Homo sapiens: one gene and its partners. The protein of the gene in region 1 interacts with the protein of each later gene in a pairwise test. Each region holds a gene or a part of one and is shown in the gene's direction. Other genes may lie near its edges.

Region 1 (3,753 bases):
TTTCCCCACCAGGCTTCAACCCAATCCAGGGCCTTTAACATTTCCAGGCATGGAAGAAAGTATCTAGGTTTACTACAAAGAAAACGGCCTTGGCCCTGAGCCAAATTCCTGAAACCTTCCTATAAACTCCATAACCCACACCCCTTCCAAGAGACATACCTAGGGAGGACATCCCTTTTCCCTTACTGCCCGTCTCGAGGACTACCGCAGCCCACTCTATATGAAAGTTCCCCTAACAAAACCTCTAGGCAGGGCCTGGCGCAGTGGCTCACACCTGTAATCCCAGCACTTAGGGAGGCCAAGGCAGAAGGATTGCTTGAGCCCAAACGTTCAACACCGGCTTGGGCAACACAGAGACCCTGTCTCTACAAAAAAAAAAAAAAAAAACAAAAACAAAAAAACAAAACTAAGCTGGGCATAGTGGCTCATGCCTGTAGTCCCAGCTACTTGGGAGGCTGAAGCAGAATTAAAGAATTCATCAAGCCCAGGAGGTGGAAGCTGCAGTAAGCTGTGATGGTGCCACTGCATACTGTCTCAAAAAAAAAAAAAAAAAAAAAAAAAAAAAAAAAAACTGCTCTGGGCTTACCATGCATTTAGCACTTCTTTCTTTGGTATCCCAACTGGTCCCACCTGAGGATAGTGTGGGGAACTCCCTTGCCGCCACTTTTGGGGTAACTCCAGTTGCAAGTTTGGCAAAACACTCCTCATGTCACTACTCCGATGTCCTCCCACTTCAGCCCTGCTCATGTGTACACAGCCCCAAATCCCTACCCACACTCCCACCACACCTTCATTTCACACCCTCCCTCATTCCCCACCATCTTCTCCAGACACCCGTCATCCCCTGGGGCCCCTTGCCATGCCCTCCAGGTCCCCTGTGGGCCCCATTCGCCCATCTAGGTTACCCTGCCCCCTCCAGCCCTCCCACCATTTTCCTCCAGGTCCCCACCATCCTCTCTAGATCCCATGTCCCCTCCAGGTGCCACTGATCCCTCCAGGAACCCACTGTCCCCATCCCTTCCAAGTGCTACCGTCCCCTCCAAATCCCCACTGTCCCCTCCAGGTCCTCAATGTCCCCATCTCCTCCAAGTGCCACCGTCCTCTCCAGGTCCCCACCGTCCTCTCCAGGTCCCCACTGTACCCATCCCCTCCAGATCCCACCGTCCTCTCCAGGTCCCCACTGTCCCCATCCCCTCCAGGTCCCACCGTCCCCTCCAGATCCCGTCTCCATCCCCTCCAAGTGCCACCGTCCTCTCCAGGTCCCCACCATCTCCTCCAGGACCCTACCATCTCCGCTAGATCCCACCATCCCAGGGCCCCCCAGCTCTCCCTCTGGGTCCCACCGTTCTCTCCGGGTCCCATCATCCCTGGGCGCCCCCGCACCGCCGCACTCCCGCCCCCAGAACCGCCTCTGTCCCCGCCCCTCTCCCAGCGCAGCCCGCATACCCCCCACCCCCCGGGGATGCGGGAAGGAGGGCTCGGGCTGTGTCAGCCACAGCGCGCGGACTGAGCCGAGGGCGGACGCTACGGCTTGGCTTGGGCCGGGCGCCCAACAGACCAACACCGTCGCTCACCTGAGGGACGCCAGACGAGTCCCAGAGCCGACCGCGGCGCCTCGGCCGCTCGGCGCCTGCGCAGTGAAGACCGCGGCGAGCCGCGCGCATGCGTGCAGGCCCGGAGCCCCAGGCGCTGGCGGGGCAGAAACGCGGCGCCCTGCGTCTTCTGGTTCCGAGGCTGGTCCTCACCGTTTCCGCTCCGGCGGAAGTGAGGAGGAGGGTCCTTCGACCCGTGCTGAGCTGGATGGACCGCGAGACGCGCGCCCTCGCCGACAGCCACTTCCGAGGCCTGGGGGTCGATGTCCCCGGCGTCGGCCAGGCTCCGGGCCGGGTAGCCTTCGTCTCGGAGCCGGGCGCCTTCTCCTACGCCGACTTTGTGCGGGGCTTCTTGCTGCCCAACCTGCCCTGCGTGTTTTCCAGCGCCTTCACGCAGGGCTGGGGCAGCCGGCGGCGCTGGGTGACGCCCGCGGGGAGGCCCGACTTCGACCACCTGCTACGGACCTACGGTGGGGCGGCGGCCGCAGACCCCGGGCGGGGAGGAAAGGCCGGCGGGACCCAGGCCCGGGAGGCCCCCGCCTAGAGAGGGGCACCAGGGAGGGTGAGGGAGGCCAGGCGCGTGGCCCCTGGAGAGTTCCTCTGCAGACGGTTTGGAGTGAGGACGGGGCCCAGGGAGATGGCATGGACCGTGCCTTTCATTTCAGGAGACGTGGTTGTACCAGTTGCAAACTGTGGGGTCCAGGAATACAACTCGAACCCCAAAGAGCACATGACTCTCAGAGACTACATCACCTACTGGAAAGAGTACATACAGGCGGGCTACTCCTCTCCCAGGGGCTGTCTCTACCTCAAAGACTGGCACTTGTGCAGGTAATGGGGCTTGGGACGCACCGAGGCGCTGCCTTCCCTAGCGCTGCGTGAACCCAGAGGCCTTTCTGATGAAGGTGGCCCCTGGGTGCACAACGGAGCTATTTTTCCCCGTGAGGCACTTTAATCAGTTTAAAAGAAACTGGATTGTCTTCCGCATGGCTGCAAGTGTTGTTCTTTGGGAGGTCAATATGGTTTTTTTTCCTTTTTTTTTGAGAGAGATCTCCTCAGCCTCCCTAGTACCTGGGATTACAGGAAGGCGTCTCCACTCCCGGCTTTTTTTTTTTTTTTTTTTTTTTTTAAAGAGACTAGGTTTCACCATGTTGCCCAGGCTGGTCTTGAACTCCTGAGCTCAGGTGATGCATCCACCTCAGCATCTCAAAGCACTGGGATTATAGGCATGATCAGTACTTTCTAATAAGCAGAACCATTGTAGTCAGACTGCCCCGCCCCCTCCCCCGCCAGCAGCGTCTGGCTCAGAGGAGGGTCTGGGGCTCTTTGGGGGCTGCAGCCATCTGGAAGCTCCACTGGAGCCGATTGGTCTCAGTTGCCCCACTCGTGCTGCCCTAGTCTCCTCGTGCCTCACGTGCTGTCGGTGGTGCCCTTGCGCCCTCCTCACAGGGACTTTCCGGTGGAGGACGTTTTCACCCTGCCTGTGTACTTCTCGTCCGACTGGCTGAATGAGTTCTGGGATGCACTGGATGTGGATGACTACCGCTTTGTCTACGCGGGGCCTGCGGGCAGCTGGTGAGGCCACGGATGTGGGAGTGGAACCCGAAGGGGCCTGGTGACAGAACGGACTGGGAGGCCCAGGGTGGCAGGAGGGGGGCTGCTTGGCACAGGCCTCACAGTGGGTGCCATCCCTTGAGACCAAGGGGCCACCCCTCCTTCAGTTGGACCAGGCCTCTGGGGTGCCAAGCAAAGCCCATACCAGCCCCTACAGGCATGAACCAGGCGCTCTTGCTGCCGCAGGTCCCCGTTCCATGCTGACATCTTCCGCTCCTTCAGCTGGTCTGTCAATGTCTGTGGGAGGAAGAAGTGGCTCCTCTTCCCCCCAGGGCAGGAAGAGGCCCTGCGGGACCGCCACGGCAACCTGCCCTACGACGTGACCTCCCCAGCACTCTGCGACACACACCTGCACCCACGGAACCAGCTTGCTGGCCCACCCTTGGAGATCACGCAGGAAGCGGGCGAGATGGTGTTTGTGCCCAGTGGCTGGCACCACCAGGTGCACAACCTGGTAATGTGCTGCTTCTCCTGCCCCCTATCAGGGGCCTTCCTGCAGGAAGACGGCAGCACCACCTCCCCACTCTCCCAGCCAGAGCTGGGCTGG
Region 2 (2,956 bases), on another chromosome or scaffold:
GCACTCCAGCCTGGGCAACAAGAGTGAGACTTCATCTCAAAAACAAATAAACAAACAAAAAACAAAAAACAAAAACAACAAAAGCATATCTAGACTGTAGACTACTTAAGGTTTTTTTTTTTTCTTAGTTCCTAATACAGTATGTGACACATAAATATCTGAATAGGAATCCTTTCTGAGAGAGAGAAGCATAAAGCAGTCCACACATATGTTTAAAAAATAAGCACAGCGAATAGTTCTATTTGAGATATTAAAGGATGGTAGAGAGTAGAGACACATTTACCAGTAGGGTCCGCAAAAATGTTTTTCTCAGGTCAGAGTTCAATCAGTGCTATGAAGACTCCACACCCACCTCAAAATGCAACTCATTTTCCGAGATTAAGATCCTTGTAGGTGAAAAGAATCTGTGTGGGGATTTAGGAATTCCTAGTCGATTGCCTTAACTACTTGGCAAATAGTGCTTTCTGAATTATGTATCAAAAGATATAAAACTCCATTCCTGGGCTCCCACCCCACCCCACCCTTGGCACTCAGTTTATGTAAGCATTCTCCTTGCTTGGCAGGTTAACTTACAACTGTCATAACTGGCTGCAACAGTGGTATAGCCTCTAAACAAGAGAAATTTGCTTTGTTTACAGATGACATATTGATTAATGACACTTGGGTGTCCATGAAAATCAAAATTGTACATGCAGAGATTGTAGTTTCACATTATTTCCCGGAAATGCTTGTAATTCTGGAATTAAAGAAATACTCGGGTTCATTTTGTTTTCTTTCGTCATTGTTTAACCTAAAAAACTGTAACTTAAAAAAAAGGGATCCTCAGGAAAATAGACGGGGGGGGAGAAAAAAAAAGGACCTAGCAGAGGATGGTTTCGATCCATCGACCTCTGGGTTATGGGCCCAGCACGCTTCCGCTGCGCCACTCTGCTGTTCTGCCAGGCACACGGTCTCACAGTACTCTTAACTACTTACAGGAGATGCGTTCAGACTACCTCGTAATTTAAGAAAAAACCTACGAGCAGTTGCCTACTTCTTTGGCTACCACAGGTTGCCAACTCACTTTGGAAAAAGGAATCACCAGAATCAAACAGAAAACAAAACTAGGGATAGAAAAATAAATATCAATACACTGGTGGGCTAGGCGCGGTAGCTCACGCCTGTAGTCACTGCACTTTGGAAGACCCAGGCAGGCAACATAGCGAGACCCTGTCTCAATAAAATTAAAAAAAGGAAAAAAAAAAACCCCCACCCCGAAACCTACACACTGGGTGCAGTTGTGAGGGGCAGTTAGATATTTAAATGGCAATTACAAATTTTAATAAGCAGGGAAAGAAGAGAACAAACTGGGAATAGAATCAGGCCTCCGCGCGGAGGGCAATAATTCTACCACGAATCACTAACCTATCATGCCTTCGCCATCGGGAAGAAAACCCTTTTGGTTATGTTTCCCTTGGCTTGGTGATGGAGAGGGTGAAATCTTGCAGTTTTCAAACACTTCCGAAGGGGGGTTTCGGTCCGCATGTGCTTTACAGCCGGCAGCAGAAAGCCAGTCACTGTGACCTTGGGGACAAAGCTGCACTCCTCAGGCTTCCGGTCTTGTGGACCGAGGCTCCTCTCCAATCGTCCTAAAGCAACTGAAGGAACAATTGATAACAATTTAAACATGTTAATTTATTTAATCTGATTTGGTTGTTAAAACAGCCTTAAAACTCTCATTCCTATTTCCCAGCAATTGCAAGAGACGCCTCCGCGGAGCCGGCGCTCAGATGCCAAAGGCTGGAGTCGTTGGTGACGTCATCCAGGGCTGGGCTATGCGGGGTGGGGCCAAGAAGCAGGACCAAAGTTCCGGTATGCGCGCTTTCAGTCTTCAATTAGGTCCGAATTCCCGGCATATAAGGGCGTTGCTTTGCCTTGGCGTTTAGGTTTCTTAAGTTGGTTTTAGAAGTTGCTTAGTCATGTCTGGCCGTGGTAAAGGTGGAAAAGGTTTGGGTAAGGGAGGAGCTAAGCGTCATCGCAAGGTTTTGCGCGATAACATCCAGGGCATCACTAAGCCAGCTATCCGGCGCCTTGCTCGTCGCGGCGGTGTCAAGCGAATTTCTGGCCTTATCTATGAGGAGACTCGTGGTGTTCTGAAGGTGTTCCTGGAGAACGTGATTCGTGACGCTGTCACTTACACAGAGCACGCCAAACGCAAGACCGTGACAGCAATGGATGTGGTCTACGCGCTGAAGCGACAGGGACGCACTCTTTACGGCTTCGGTGGCTAAGGCTCCTGCTTGCTGCACTCTTATTTTCATTTTCAACCAAAGGCCCTTTTCAGGGCCGCCCACTTTTTTCATAAAAGAGCAGACATCTTGTTATCCTGCTTTGTTCCAGATTTTTGCTGAGAAGTAGTTACTGTGCACATGTGTAGATTTGCAGGTAACGTTTAATTACTCGTGCTTAATCTCGCATGTTTAGGATTTGGGCATAAAGTACTTAAAGCCACTGTTTTCTGCTTGAGGGAAGTTGGTATGTTGAATATGTTTAGCTTTCTTGTGGCATTTTAACACTAGATATCAGTGAGTAAGCTGGATTGTGACAGTTTATAATTCCCGTGGGCCTTCCTCCTTCAGTTTAAGCTTGAAGCGTTCGTAAGGTTCTCAAAGACTACAGAAGTTGGAAACTTCGCGGAGAGACTGCAAGTTACCCTTTCCAAAATGGCGGGAAGGGCTAAAAACAAAGAAAGCTCGCACCCAGACGGCGGGCCTTAAACCAAGGCGAATCCGTGAGCGCAACACATCTGCGTGAGTAGGATCGCAGACCCAAGTCCAGGCGGCGTGCGCGCTGCTGCTTTTGACTTGGTGACAAAACTCGTCTACAAAAGGCAGTGTGGGGTAACAATATAAATGTTCACTTGAGAGCTTGCAAGTATTGTTTCCAATAGACTTAAAATGTGTTTTTGAATATTACG
Region 3 (3,298 bases), on another chromosome or scaffold:
AGCAAAGCTTCTGTGCCATCTCTATGTGGAACCAGGAGTCACCTCCCTAGGATATCTATGTGTTCACAAACCAATAAACTCCCTGACCTTGGTATCCAGAGCTTTTATGAGGGTTTTATTATATAGGCAGGATTGATTGAATCATTGACCATATGATTGAACTTGTTGGGGCACAGGGAAAGCTTCCCCTATGTACTCTGAAGCTTCACTGAAAATCACTGTCAAGAGGCAGATTAATAGAAGAAAAGGCATACACATTTATTTAACATGTACGCAGAAGCCTTCAGAATGAAGACCTAAAGATACAGGGGAAATTGTCCATTTTTATGCTTAGGTTCAACAAAGTATGGACAGCTATGTAGAAATATGACTGGACATAATGTGTATGATCTAATGCTAAGAGACTGAGTGGGGAAACCCAGCCAGGCCTGTCTAGATTCTTCTTGGGCGCTCTGTGTAGTATTTCTTTTGTATATGGGGCAGGGCCCTCTCTGGAACGGAGGTCCTACGACTTACAGTCAAACAAGGTAAGTCAAATAATTTCTTTGTGGCCAGTTTTTACACGAAAAAATAAAATTTTTAGGTTTCTTATTGTTTTTTTCTTTTCTTTTCTTTTCTTTTTTTTTGAGATGGAGTCTCACTCAGTTGTCTAGCCTGGAGTGCTGTGGTGTGATTTCGGCTCAATGTAAGCGCCGCTTCCCAGGTTCAAGAGATTCTCCTGCCTCACCCTCCTGAGTAGCTAATATTACAGGTATGTGACACCACGCCCAGTTAATTTTTGTATTTTTAGTAAAGACGGGGTTTCACCATGTTGGCCAGGTTGGTCTCGAAGTCCTGACTTTAAGTGACCTGCCTGCCTCAGCCTCCCTAAGTGCTGGGATTACAGGCATGAGCCAGCGCGCCCGGCCTAAACAAGCTTATATTAAAGATGACAATTTATTACTTATAAACAAATCAATAAATCTTGCTGGGTAACTAGTTCATTAACTCAAGACTCAATCAACAAAACTAAAAGTAAATTCTGAATGTAACATAGAATTTAAAAACCATAATACTCAATGCTGGTAAACATACACAGCAGTTACTGCTGGCAAAAGTGAATGGAATAAAACTTTTGAGGAAAATGTAGTAACAGTTATCAAAATACCTTAAAATCTGCATCCTTTGTGACAAAGCGCTTCAATTCTACATTTTCCTCAGGAAGTAAATTTTGTACAGTTCTCCTTTAAATTAGGAAAAGAAAATTAGCACATTATTGCTAAGTACTAGAAATACTGTGAAAGTGGACCTAGAAAATTCTTATGATGGAATATTAAGCAGATATAAATTACTGCTTTTAAAATTTTTCCTAATGTGAATTTTCTAAGCTTTTAACCGTGAACATAGATTCCCTTTGGCAAACCACCTTGATTAAATTATAGACAGAATAGAATTTTGGTAATAGTTCCGAGTATGTATAATGTTAAAGGTGGTACTTAATCCGCAGGGAAAAGATGAATTATTTAAAAAATCTGGTTGATTAATAAATTCCTAGGGAATTGGTTAACACTGTAGCAGGCAGAATTCAGGAGAAGAAATAATAAAGACATTAAAATCACTTTTGTAAACTTTTTAAATAAGGGAAATTGATTAAAACAACGCGAAGTTGTAAAATGCCATATACTGCATACATTTTGTGGGAAAAAATGTGCATTTATCTGCTCACCAAATTATCTTATTAGCTAGCAGTAGAGCTCTTTGTGTGATGGGAAGATGGGATAACAGGCTGTTGTTACTGTACTGGTTTTTTTTTTTAATATATTTAAAAAAAAGAGTGTCTCCTAAAGTGTAAGCGCTATCATGCTGGACTAATGTTTTAATTTAATTTAATTGTTGTCTTGGTAGAGATGGGGTCTCGCTATTTTGCTCACGCAGATCTCAAACTCCTGACGCCCAGGTACACTCCCATCTCGGCCTCCTAAAATGGTGGGATCACAGACGTCAGCCACCGAGCCCGGTCACTTTTTTGTATTCCCCACAGTATTGATGTATATCTTCTGCGTTCAAAAGCAATTTTTTAAAGCCTCATAACGTGGTAACAGAATACTTTGCACATTACAAAATTCAGAACACGGAAACAAGAAGCTCGCTTTTTTTTCCCCCCTATTTCGGTTTGGCCCTTTAGATTTCCCCTCCCCCACCGGGGCGGGACTTCCCGCCGACTTCTTTCAGGTTCTCAGTTCGGTCCGCCAACTGTCGTATAAAGGCGCTGCCTCAGGCCAGAGGCCTCACAAAGCGTTGGGTGAGACTCCTCTTGCTCGTCATGTCTGGCCGCGGCAAAGGCGGGAAGGGTCTTGGCAAAGGCGGCGCTAAGCGCCACCGTAAAGTACTGCGCGACAATATCCAGGGCATCACCAAGCCGGCCATCCGGCGCCTTGCTCGCCGCGGCGGCGTGAAGCGCATCTCCGGCCTCATCTACGAGGAGACTCGCGGGGTGCTGAAGGTGTTCCTGGAGAACGTGATCCGGGACGCCGTGACCTATACAGAGCACGCCAAGCGCAAGACGGTCACCGCCATGGATGTGGTCTACGCGCTCAAGCGCCAGGGCCGCACCCTCTACGGTTTCGGTGGTTGAGCGTCCCTTTCTATCAATAAAAGGCCCTTTTCAGGGCCACCCTACTTTCTCAGCTGAAGAGTGGTAACACTGAGGAGTGGTTTTGGTAGGTACGGAATTTTGCTTGGTTCTGAGTCAGTTCTGGGGGGAACAGTTTTTTGAACACAGCGGCACACGTGTGGCCATTCACCCGGGGTCACTGTAGGCAGGACTAATTACGAGATGTAATGTCTAAACTTGCTCAAAATTCGTAAGCTTGTTTACGTAATGGAGAAAATACTCGTACACAGAATGTGCAGTACCAGAAACGTTTATGTAACCCCCGTAGTGAGCTTGACAGTGGTAATCGGAAATCGTTTTTGAAAAGCCTCCAAATCCACAAGTATTTGTGGGTTTTTTTTGTTTCGTCTTTGTCTGCGAGTTGGAGTGCAGCGGCGCGATCTCGGCTCACTGCAACTTCCGCCTCCTGGGTTCAAGCGATTCTCCTGCCTCAGCCTGCCGAGTAGCTGGGATTACAGTTTTGCGCCACTACACCCAGCTAATTTTTGTATTAGTAGAGATGGGGTTTCACTATGTTGGCCAGGATGGTCTCGATCTCCTGACCTCGCGATCCGCCCGCCTTGGCCTCTCAAAGTGCGACCTCTTAAAGAATTTTAAGATAATTTTTTACTTTCCTCCACCCTCATTAAGGTATGACAACTTACA

What was found.
Region 2: the proteins of JMJD4 (region 1) and H4C8 interact in binary tests that used the Homo sapiens proteins (3 or more experiments, as listed by UniProt).
Region 3: the proteins of JMJD4 (region 1) and H4C11 interact in binary tests that used the Homo sapiens proteins (3 or more experiments, as listed by UniProt).

The regions. Positions count from the first base shown.
Region 1 is NC_000001.11:227,733,321-227,737,073, reverse strand, and holds the start of JMJD4 (2-oxoglutarate and iron-dependent oxygenase JMJD4), read left to right. Parts: upstream 1-1,771; 5' UTR 1,772-1,800; coding exon 1,801-2,062; exon of another isoform or gene 2,063-2,257; coding exon 2,258-2,423; exon of another isoform or gene 2,424-3,041; coding exon 3,042-3,167; exon of another isoform or gene 3,168-3,392; coding exon 3,393-3,660; exon of another isoform or gene 3,661-3,753. Other genes in the region: SNAP47 (synaptosomal-associated protein 47), read right to left, coding at 1,575-1,664. UniProt on the Homo sapiens protein: Catalyzes the 2-oxoglutarate and iron-dependent C4-lysyl hydroxylation of ETF1 at 'Lys-63' thereby promoting the translational termination efficiency of ETF1.
Region 2 is NC_000006.12:26,284,502-26,287,457, reverse strand, and holds H4C8 (histone H4), read left to right. Parts: upstream 1-1,923; 5' UTR 1,924-1,958; coding exon 1,959-2,270; 3' UTR 2,271-2,332; downstream 2,333-2,956. UniProt on the Homo sapiens protein: Core component of nucleosome. Nucleosomes wrap and compact DNA into chromatin, limiting DNA accessibility to the cellular machineries which require DNA as a template.
Region 3 is NC_000006.12:27,821,823-27,825,120, forward strand, and holds H4C11 (histone H4), read left to right. Parts: upstream 1-2,269; 5' UTR 2,270-2,302; coding exon 2,303-2,614; 3' UTR 2,615-2,658; downstream 2,659-3,298. UniProt on the Homo sapiens protein: Core component of nucleosome. Nucleosomes wrap and compact DNA into chromatin, limiting DNA accessibility to the cellular machineries which require DNA as a template.